Linked DNA regions of Homo sapiens: region 1 is linked to region 2. A link means that fine-mapping ties the variant in region 2 to the plasma level of a protein whose gene starts in the linked region. Region 2 holds a variant in brackets. A gene starts in the other region. All regions are shown on their reverse strands.

Evidence for each region. PIP is the chance, under the fine-mapping model, that this variant and not a neighbour inherited with it causes the effect. Protein levels are from antibody-based Olink assays in UK Biobank. Linkage for the fine-mapping came from a reference panel and not from the study's own genotypes, which makes the PIPs less certain.
Region 1: CDCP1 starts here. The variant in region 2 is fine-mapped to the plasma level of the CDCP1 protein (UK Biobank, PIP above 0.99).

Annotation. Positions count from the first base shown.
Region 1 is chr3:45,145,502-45,150,943 of GRCh38, reverse strand. It overlaps CDCP1 (CUB domain containing protein 1), which reads left to right and starts at 4,566. Exons shown (of 9, transcript NM_022842.5): 1 at 4,566-4,738. The coding sequence starts at 4,657.
Region 2 is chr11:126,356,184-126,361,183 of GRCh38, reverse strand. All of the region lies in intron 1 of ST3GAL4 (ST3 beta-galactoside alpha-2,3-sialyltransferase 4), which reads right to left. Among named protein-coding and RNA genes, the nearest start is that of ST3GAL4, 3.0 kb to the right of the region's middle. RefSeq lists enhancers at 2,149-2,890, 4,540-4,689, 4,377-5,000. The variant G/T (reference allele first, on the strand shown) is at 4,416.

The DNA.
Region 1 (5,442 bases), not on the chromosome of region 2:
AGGGCACTCCATGACTCTTTTAATCTGGAAACTCATGTCATTCAGGCCTGGAGAATTTCTTCACTTATATTATTGATGATGTCGTCTCCTCTGTTTCATCTGCTCTCTCTTTTTAGGAAACTTATTTTTCAGATGTTGGATTTTCTGAACTGGACCTCAAATTTTCTTTACTTTTCCCTCCTACTTTTTATCTCTTTGTCTTTTTGCTTTACTTTCTGGGAGCACTTCTAACTCTTCTATTTATTTATTATTATTTTTTTTATCTACAATCACTTTTTTTCATTTCCAATAATTCTTTTGTGGTTCTCTGAATCTTTTTGTTTGTTTTGTTCTGTTTTTGAGATGGAGTTTCGCTCTTGTTGCCCAGGCTGGAGTGCAGTGGTGCAATCCTGGCTCACTGCAACCTCTGCCTACTGGGTTCTAGTGGTTCTCCTGCCTCAGCCTCCTGAGTAGCTGGGATTACAGGCACACACCACCACGCCTGGCTAATTTTTTGTATTTTTAGTAGAGACAGGGTTTCTCCATGTTGGTCAGGTCGGTCTCAAACTCCCAACCTTAGGTGATCCACCCGCCTCAGCCTCCCAAAGTGCTGGGATTACAGGTGTGAGCCACCACACCCGGCCTTGTTTTGTTTTTTATAACATGCTGTTCCTGCTTCACAGAGAGAATGTTGTCTGACACCAAATTATAGTTGCCTACATCACTCTAAGAGAGTTAGTAATTTTTTTGTTTTGCTTCCTTTTATTTTCTTCTCTTTGTATAGTCTTTCAGGTTGCTTCTTTCTTTCTTTCTTTCTTTCTTTCTTTCTTTCTTTTTTCTCGGTTTGGTTACTTGGTTGGCTTTGACTCTAATATGTTAGAAGCTCTCCTCAGATATCCTGAAATCCTGATTGCTCATGTTTAAAAGTGAGATATTGGCCAGGCACAGTGGCTCACGCCTGTAATCCCAGCACTATGGGAGGTTGAGGTGGGTGGATCACATGAGGTCAGGAGTTCGAGACCAGCCTGGCCAACATGGTGAAACCTCATCTCTACTAAAAATACAAAACTTAGCCAGGCGTGGTGGTGTGCAACTGTAGTCCCAGCTACTTGGGAGGCTGAGGCAGGAGAATCGCTTGAACCCGGGAGGCAGAGGTTGCAGTGAGCCGAGATCGCGCCATTGCACTCCAGCCTGGGTGACAGAGCGAGACTCCATCTCAAAAAAAATAAATAAATAAAAATTAAAATTAAAATGAGATATTAAAAAGCTAAGTTGGTGGGGCTTAATTGAAAGCCTCATGGTAGGAAGCTGGTTGGCCTGTTTATGAGGGTCTAATGTCCATATGTTTGGGTCTTTCCTCCTGTGCTGGTCAGACTCCCCAGAAGAAGACTTTTTCCATCCCCAATATGGATAACAAAGCCTTTTTGTCTCATCCTTGGATGCAGGTTGGGGCCAGACAGCTGGGGATCTCAGCATTCAGAATGCATATCTTCCCTTTATTTACCTACTTTTACAATGTTTCCTATGCTTTCAGCTATGCCTGGCATCCCTCAGCCCACATCCCTAGGTTTTAATCTCTCCAGAAGACAACACTAAAGTTGTTAAGCTTACCAACCCTCTAACTTGTCAAGATCTAAAGATCGATAATATAGGCAGACTCACATCAAGGCACATTATGGTGAAATTTCAGAAACCAATGAACAAAAAGAAGATTCTACAGCTTTAGAGGCAAGAAAAGGGTCTCAAAGAAAATAATAAAAATGAGAATGGTTTTGGATTTCTCAAGAACAACACTGGAAGCTGGACGAGGGACTGTTGCCCAGGCAAGGGTAATGATGGATGGGTTCTGGGATCTAACCACAGTACTTCTCAAACAGCTTTCTTCTAGCCTTTCTTGTTTAACTCCTCTTTCACCCTCCAGTTGCAGAATACCTTGTGCTGCCATTTCCTGAGGATCTTTTTTGAGGATTTCTGTGTTAATCGTGTTATTTCTGAGTTTTCCCCACTACTGGCTTAGGGTTCTGCCATCTCCAGGCTCCTAAGGCAGCTACCACTAGTCCAGCTGCTGTCTAGCTTCCAGGGTGATTTTGCTGTTGTCTTCTCTCTGTTCTTCCCACCTTTGTGGGCTTATGTAATTTTTTTTAATCCCTGTTTTACAGCCTTTGCAGGGTTTCAGAAGAGGTCAAAATTAGATGGGACAGTCTGTTTTAAGACTCACCTTCCTTTTTTTTTTTTTTCTTTTTTTAGAGAGAGAACTTTACTCTGTCGCCCAGGCTGGAGTGGAATGGTGCAATCTTAGCTCACTGCAACCTCCACCTCCCAGGTTCAAGCAATTCTCCTGTCTCAGCCTCCTGGGTAGCTGGGACTACAGGCGCCCGCCACCACAGCCGGCTAATTTTTGTGTTTTTAGTAGAGATGAGGTTTTGCCATGTTGGCCAGGCTGGTCTCCAACTCCTGACCTCAAGTTATCCACCCACCTTGTCCTCCCAAAGTGCTGGGATTACAGGCATGAGCTACTGCACCCAGCCGAAAATTTACCTTTCAATCTCTCATTTCTCTCTAGCACTAGATTATAGTTACCTACGTTGCTTTCCAGTTCAGAAATAACCTTTTAAAATTTACTCCTTCCATTCAGCCATGTTTGTAAAGACAAAACATGTCCATTCTTGGCAATGCTTTGTTCACACTCCACTTGGAGGACCAGGACAGTATGTCAGGACATCTTTACTTCAACTATGTAGTTGGGTTGTCACGCAAAGGATGCTGAAGTGCCTCCCTATTTTCTTCTTTCTCGTTGCTGCTACTTTCTGGAACCACCACCAATGCTTCATATTTGGGAATTAGTGACTCTCATTCCATTTTCAGAAAGCTGGTGTCAACTATCCCAAGAAAGACAGTTAAGCAAACTTTGGAGAGACGAAATAGTAAGGAAATAACTTGTTCCTTAGGCTTAACTTGTCAAGCAATATTTCTGATATTTTGCATTCAATACACTGCCATTCTAGTACTGTTGTGGGTATTACTGTATGTGGGAAACAATGGTGTCATGGATGTTAGGAAAAGATGCTGGGATATATATGCCTGCTTAGAATCAGGAGAAAAGACAAATCTCCTTTCACCCTCCTGGTCAGCATAAATATTTTTAAAGATTGTTTAGATTTTTGTCAAGATTTCTTTCTCTTGATGAATTTGTCCTCGATTCAGTGGGGAGAACCAAGAGCCTCTCTTCGTTTCTCATCCTCTCCCTTCCCTCTAGTTCTCAGTTTTCCCATTTTTCTGCACAAGGACAGAAGTGGACTAGAAGATTACATCTAAGGTCCCGTTTAGCTCACGATACAGGCCCTCCCAGAGGTGGGGGTGTGGGCAGGGTCATGTTCCAAGTTCTGCCTCCCTCGATGGACTGTGGGCTCCCAGAGGGCAGAGCTAGCTCTATTCTCATGATTAAGGACATCGAGAAGGAAGGGGTGACGCTCCTAGGAGATGATTTCCCACCCCTGTCCACAAGGAGGATTGGGGCAGCCTGGAGAGGCTCAGTGCCCGCAAGAATTAAGCAGAAGTTGGGACTGGACTGTAAACTGATGCTGTCGCACATGCTTTGGTTCCTGTCCCAAGCCTCCCAGGTTGCTCCGGGTGACTCTGGCCCAGCTTCTGGCTATCCATGAACACAAGTAGTCCCAGGGAGTCATTCTGGCAGAACCCAGGTCTGCTAGCTAAGAACTCCTGAACCATCCGCAATCTCTGCCTGTGGCCTGGACTTGGTGTATGGCCGGCAGGGTGGAAGGAGAACCCACAGGGCCTCTGAAGACAGGCAGGTGGCACACCTGCGGCTGGGAGGATTTGGAAAAGGAGTCCAGCGCCATTCATTTTTCATTCATTTTCCAGCCCAACGTTTGACCTGAATGCTTCACGCTCACACTGCACACACTACTCCATTTATAATACAACTCGAGAAGGGCACATACTACTCCATCCACAGCTCAGTGAAGGGATGCATACTACTCTACTCACAATTCAACGAAGTGGTGCATCTGCCTCTAATTTACTAGCTACCCTGGGGACCTTGGACACGTTGCGTGTCTGGAAATACTGCAGGTGATGTGTGTGGAGTAGGCTGCAGGCTCACCGTCCTGCAAATACTAGCTGTACCACCACCGGCTTTAAAGTCCAACAGACCTCTGGCCCAAGTCAAGTAGCAGAGGATCCAGGGCTTGGGTGGCCCACAAATAGGATTCTTCTCCAAAACGAGGCGCATAATGGCCTTTGTCTCCTCGACAGAAAAGGGAAGGTAGACTGGCTTCCTCTATGGGCGACCTTCGCGACTCTGGAGAAAAAGACCTCATCATTCTCAGACTTGGGAAGGAAGACTAAGCCCGGAAAGGTGGGGACAAGTCCGCTCCAACGCCGCAATGGGGAGTAGTAGGGACCCAGCAACCCGGTGCCGGGAGCCCTGCACCCTGGGAGGGAGAGGCGGTCGCTGAGGCAGGAAGAGGAGGAGGAGAGAGAGGAGGGACGCACCGGGTCAGCTCGCGATCCTGCTGCGCAGGGCGGGGCTCGGGCCGGTCCGCCCGCGCGCAGGTGAGTGAGCCAGGGCGGAGCGCAGCTGCGCCGGGCTTGGGCGCCTGGGGCCGCCGCTCCCCACCGTCGTTTTCCCCACCGAGGCCGAGGCGTCCCGGAGTCATGGCCGGCCTGAACTGCGGGGTCTCTATCGCACTGCTAGGGGTTCTGCTGCTGGGTGCGGCGCGCCTGCCGCGCGGGGCAGGTGAGTGCCGGGCTTTGGAGGCGGATGGCGTGGAGTGGTGAGCTAGCCAGCCAGCGGACGCCCGGCGGAGATGCGGCCGAGGGACGCAGGGTGCGGAGGGTGCGGAGGGTGCGGAGAGAGGGCGGGGACGGCGTAGTCAAAATGCGCGGGTGGCTCCGGGACCCCCGGACTGTTCGGTTCCTGCGCGCGCCGCGTCGGGCGCGTGGGCCTTGCCCTCCTGGAGTCAACCTTGCCCTCGGCACGTGAGAGTGTCCCCGATCGGGGAGCCTCCCGGTCCGGGAGGATGAGCCCGGTGCTGGCCGAGAAGGCGGGAAAAGGAGCTCCCGGTAGCCGATCCCAGGCGACATGTCCAAGGTGGCGCGCCGTGCGCCCCAGGGTCTTTGCCGGGATTCTTGAAAGCACCCAGGCAGGGTGTGGGAAGAGATCTTTCCTCTCCAGGCTCGCCCTCTACCTCCTCGCCTGGTCCAGAGAGAAGGTGCAAAAAAAGTGCTTTCACGTCCGCATTTCCCACTAGATCCCCTTTTTCCCGTCCGCACGCTGCATTCCCCCTCTCCTAAAGTTGAAGAGCGTTGGTGCAAAAATGAAAGCGCCCGGATTTCTTTTAGGGGGTCCCAGAGAAAGCCGCCAGGCATCTGCGCCACCGCAGAGACTGGACATTCCCGCGCCCCTCGCACTTTTTGGCAGTGGACTTTGAGGGCAGGAGG
Region 2 (5,000 bases):
TGGGCCTCAAATAAGGAGAGGACTGACATAGGGATTGGAGCTGAGGTCAGGACCTGTCTGCAGGGACCTGAAGGTTACTAGGGAGGGGTGATGGGTAGAGAAATGTGGCCAGCCGACCCTGTGGTGGGTGGAATGGGGCATGCACTCCTCAGGGGACAAGCTCCTGCCCATCCTCACCTGGGTTCCTGCCTGCCTCTCTGAGGTCTGAACAGAGACCCCCAAGGTGGCAGCACACAGATGGGGCCAGACCTTTCTCTGGCAAACAGCTCAACTGGCAAAAGGGAAACTTTTTCCCTTTGCCCTGGGAGGAGGAAGCAAAGTAAAGATGCAGCAAAGACAAATCAGCATACCTGAGCTGCATTTCCATCACTCATCACACAAGAATCTATTGAGTGCTTATTGTTTGCTAGACATCATTCCAGGCATTAAGAAAATACACCAGTGAACAAGACAGACACGCTCGGCTGGGCACGGTGGCTCACGCCTGTAATCCCAGCACTTTGGGAGGCTGAGGTGGGCGGATCACAAGGTCAGGAGTTCGAGACCAGCCTGGCCAACATGATGAAACCCTGTCTCTACTAAAAGTACAAAAATTAGCCAGGCGTGGTGGCGGGTGCCTGTAATCTCAGCTACTCAGGAGGCTGAGGCAGGAGAATAACTTGAAACCAGAAGATGGAGGTTGCAGTTAGCCGAGATCGCGCCACTGCACTCCAGCCTAGGAAACAAGAGCAAAACTCTGTCTCAAAAACAAAACAAAACAAACAAACAAAAACCAGCCTGGGCAACATGGCAAAACCCTGTATCTACAAAAAATAGAAAAATTAGCCTAGTGTGGTGGCGCATACCCACAGTCATGAGCAAGTCAGCTGCCTCCTCGCCTGCCCAGAACTCCGCGGATCCCTCAGCCTCTGCCCTCGTCAGTCCCTTGCATGACTTCCCTCCAAATGATCAGAACCCAGTGGGAACCCAGGGTATACCCCGGCTGGCCCCTAATTCTCTCCTGCCAGGAATCCCTCCTCCCAACCTGAGCAACCTCTAAGAGACAGGGAGGGCTGCCGGTGCGGAGCTTGTCTGTGGGCAAAACAGCTCACCATGTTGGAAGGAGAATTGGGTCTTTGGGAGCCTCTCTGGCCTTGAGCCAGCCCAGGACGGGCATCAAGGAGGGCCAGGCAGCCAAGGTGCTTCTGCCTGGCAGGAATCAGGATGCCAGACGCCAGGAGCAGCCACTTTGGCTGGGTTCCCTGTGCTTAGACCCCATAGGGCCCCTCCCCTTCCCCACGTGTGGCCGTGGTTGCCTTGCAGCCATGTGGGCGGCAGCCACATTTCCAAAGGAATAGGAGCTGCAGGCAGGCCAGATGGAAGCAATTGCCAAGGGAAAGCAGCAGAGGTGGGGGCTGGGGAGGCTGGGAGGGCCCACGGGGAAGGAGGGAAGGAGGGAAGGAGGGAAGGAGGGAGGGAGAAGAACCTTGTCCTGCCCCGCCCCGCCCAGCTGAGAAAGCGGACAAGCGTGTGCTCAGGGTACGGCCCGGCCGGGATGTGGGGTTCGGGAGAGCACTCAGAGGTCAGGGTTTGTGTTCCACCTTTGACACTAATACACTGTGGCCTTGAGCAAACCCCTTCACGCCTTTGAGCTGGGATCTGTTTCTTCATGGGGCAAAATGAGCAAACTCCAGGGGGCAGTTGAGAACTGGGCTGAAAAGTGAAGGTTTTGGAAGCAAGCCTGGATTTGAGTCCTAGCTCAGCTGCTTACGAGCTGTATGACCTTGGCCAAGTAACTTAATCCTTCAATCCTCCATTTCTTCATTTATAAATGGGCTTAATTACAGGGTTGTGTGAAGCTCACATGAAGGGACGTAAAGTGTCTAGCACATCTTTTTTTTTTTTTTAAGTTTATTGGGCCAGGCTTTTAATAAGTGCCTGATTGCTAAATGGTAATATTTTTGTTATTTGCTGAGGCCATTTTCATTATGGGGACAGATGTACAGATGTTCACCCATGCTGCAGTTGGCAGAGGACGCAGAGCACAAGTAGGGTCGCTGCAGACCAGCATTCCTTAGCACTCTCCAAACTGGTCCCAGCACTCTTTGGGGCTGCCTCCCCTAAACAGGAAAGCAAGATCCTGAGGACCCCAACCCCCATGCACAGGCTTGAATGAGCTGCAGGTGGGACAAAGGAACTCTCCTACTCAGGTGCTTCTGGGCTTCTGCAGCCAGGCCAGGCCTTCCTCACAATCAAGGCCCAGGTGGGAAACTGGAGGCCCAGCCAGACCCACACCTCACTTCAGCCCGAGCAGCAGCAACCTCCTCCCTGCTGGGCCAGCAGTGGCACCCAGGGCTTCAGTATAGGCAATCCTACCATCTTATCACATCCTATCACAGGGCAGTGTGGGGTACAGGGGAACAGAGATGGGGTTGTGGCCAGGCTGTAGGTCCCAGGTAAAGGGCTCAGCCAACACTAAAAACCCACAGCTCTGGACACCCACACCCTCTAACCCCGAAATGCAACAACCCAAGCAACCTTTGGGGGAATTCAGCCCCTGCAGGGCTCAGGGGCTCCAGTCAGAAAGCTGACCAGCACTTGGCTAGGGCCTGGGCATCGCACGCTGCTGCTCTCACGTGAAGCTACACTGACCACTTCCTCAGTCTGTAGAATAAAGGACATCATTCACACACCTCCCTCCCCGAAATGTGGCAGGGGTTGGGGTGATTCTGAGGCCAGGGACAGCCAGTAGTCCATCCAGGGCCACTCAGGACACTCATACAGAAGCCTCTGGGAAGGGGGCAACAAAGAAGAGGGGGTTAATAACAAGAGTCACCCAAATCTGCCTACACTCACCATTTCCTCCCGGCAACCAAAAGCTTCAGGTCAAGGTCGTGGGTCTTGAGTAGGAAGGAGGATCCCAGCGTGAGGGAAACACGGAGCGGGAGCTAAACCACCAGCAGGGGCCTGTTGCAGGGAAACGTCCAGCCGGCCCAGTGCGACTGAACTGAGGGGGCAGGAAGCAGGGGCTGTTTGCTCGGGGTGTCCCACCCTGCACTGCTGGACTGCCCCGCTCTCCAGCATCTAAGGTCCATCTCCGAGGGGCCAGGAGCTGGGCTAGGCTCTAGCGGCTGCCTTGATGGCAATCTGTAGGCTTGGACTTCAGACCCCACTTGGGGCCCAAGCTCCCTCTCCATCCCCTGCAGGCCCCCCAGCCAGCTCCTTTCCCTATCGGCCCAGGGTCTGGAACTTGGCAGGCACGGAAACATTTGTATTAGTCCAAGATAGAGGGATCCCTTCCCTCCAACAGATGGTGCAAACCTTTGAGCCATTCTGAGAAGAATTCCCAATTCCATTGGGACAACCCCAGGAGCAGCCTCTCTGAGGAGAGACCCAGAGAACGTGCCCAAGTCAGACCTGGGGTAGCCCCCAAAGCAAGGGCAGATGGTGGCCAGTGGGGAGTTAGGACAGAATGACAGCTCAAGATGGAGCACAGAAAGGGGGTTTGGTCTCTCTGCTCCTGCTGGGGAAGGGAGCCCTTTCCAGGATTAAAAGTCCAGAAAGGAGCAGATTCTTAGTTCTATCCAGAAAACCGGATTCTAGGAGTCTAACGAGGTTGGGAGGCTGGCGGGGGCACGGCACTCTCTTCCTGAGAAGCAGAGGGCCAGTCACTGCTTCCCGTAGGGAAGGCAGCCCAGAGGCACCTCAGCCTGGGCCGCCAGCTCACAGAGAAGGCGGCCCTGTTGTCTCTGAACAACAACCCATCCCCAAGCTAAAGACACCCACTCTGCCCAAAGTCCAAGCTGGCAATTTCCAATTCACTCTTCTAACTCTTCCTTCCATGTGCACCCTCACAACCTCGGTTACCATCTTGGAGTCTGGGGGATCTGGCCCCAACTCCTGGCAAGCTCCCCATGTCTTGACAGAGCCCAGGGCCCATGGGGCAGCTTAGGATCACCCACCCAGCGCAATGGGGCCAGGCACAGGAGCAGTCTGGGAGTGGGCCAGGAGCAGGGCAGGGAACGGTCAAGGGGCATTCCCAGACCAGCTCTCAGCAAGCAAAACAACCTCCCGAGTTCATTTCTAGGCCCCAAACAGCGGGCACGTCCCCGGAACCCACTCTAGAATTATCGGGCAGCTTTGGAGAGTAACAGCATGGGAGAAATATTACCAATAGTGAATATTTATACAGCTCTCCCTCCGTGCAGGCGCCTTTCAAAGCACTTAGCATATATCAACTCATTTAAAATCCCCCTGGCAGATGCCAGGGCCAGGACCTAGAGGAGGTGGAGTCTGTAGGACGGGTCCGGCACAGCTCAGGAGACAGTGACACGGGTGTGTGTCTCTTGTGAGAACTCAGCCTGTACCAGGCCTGTTCCCAAAGTTCAAAAAGAATGAGTCCGCCTGAGCCTGGCTTCCACGCGGTACCCGCCTCC[G/T]GCGGTGGAAAGTACAGGCTTCCCCAAGAGGCCTGTGGGGGGTGCCAGCTTGTGGGTGGCCATGAGGTCAGACAGGGCACAGCTGGGCACCCGAACACTGCCTACACTCCCAGCCTTCTGGCAGCAGTTCCCTTAAGCCAGGCCCTCAGGACCCAGGCTGGGGAGCAGAGGAAGCAGCCACAGTAGGTCAGGCCTCAAGCTGCCCAGACAGAGCCTCCCCCCAGGACTGGGAATGGAGGGGCAGTGCTGGCAGACATGTTGGCAGTTCTGGGCTGGCCGGGAGGTCCCTGCCAGCCAGGTCCCCGAGGAAACACCCACAGCAGACAGCTGAGCCCACTCCCCCCATCGCATCCCTCCCACTGCTCACCACCCATGCAGCCCTGAGGCACAGTGGCCTAGGCCTGACGACCCCCATAACGTGGCCCTAGGACCCTGGGCACAGCCGGCCTCCCACTGACAACTCCACCTTTGGGTCCTGCTCAGCGACCTTGCGACTCCTGCACACAGGCGGACCCCGCAAAGCCTGTCACCTCCAGCACAGTCAGCTCCCAAGTGCTGGACCTGACCGGGGTAGTTGTGGGAGAA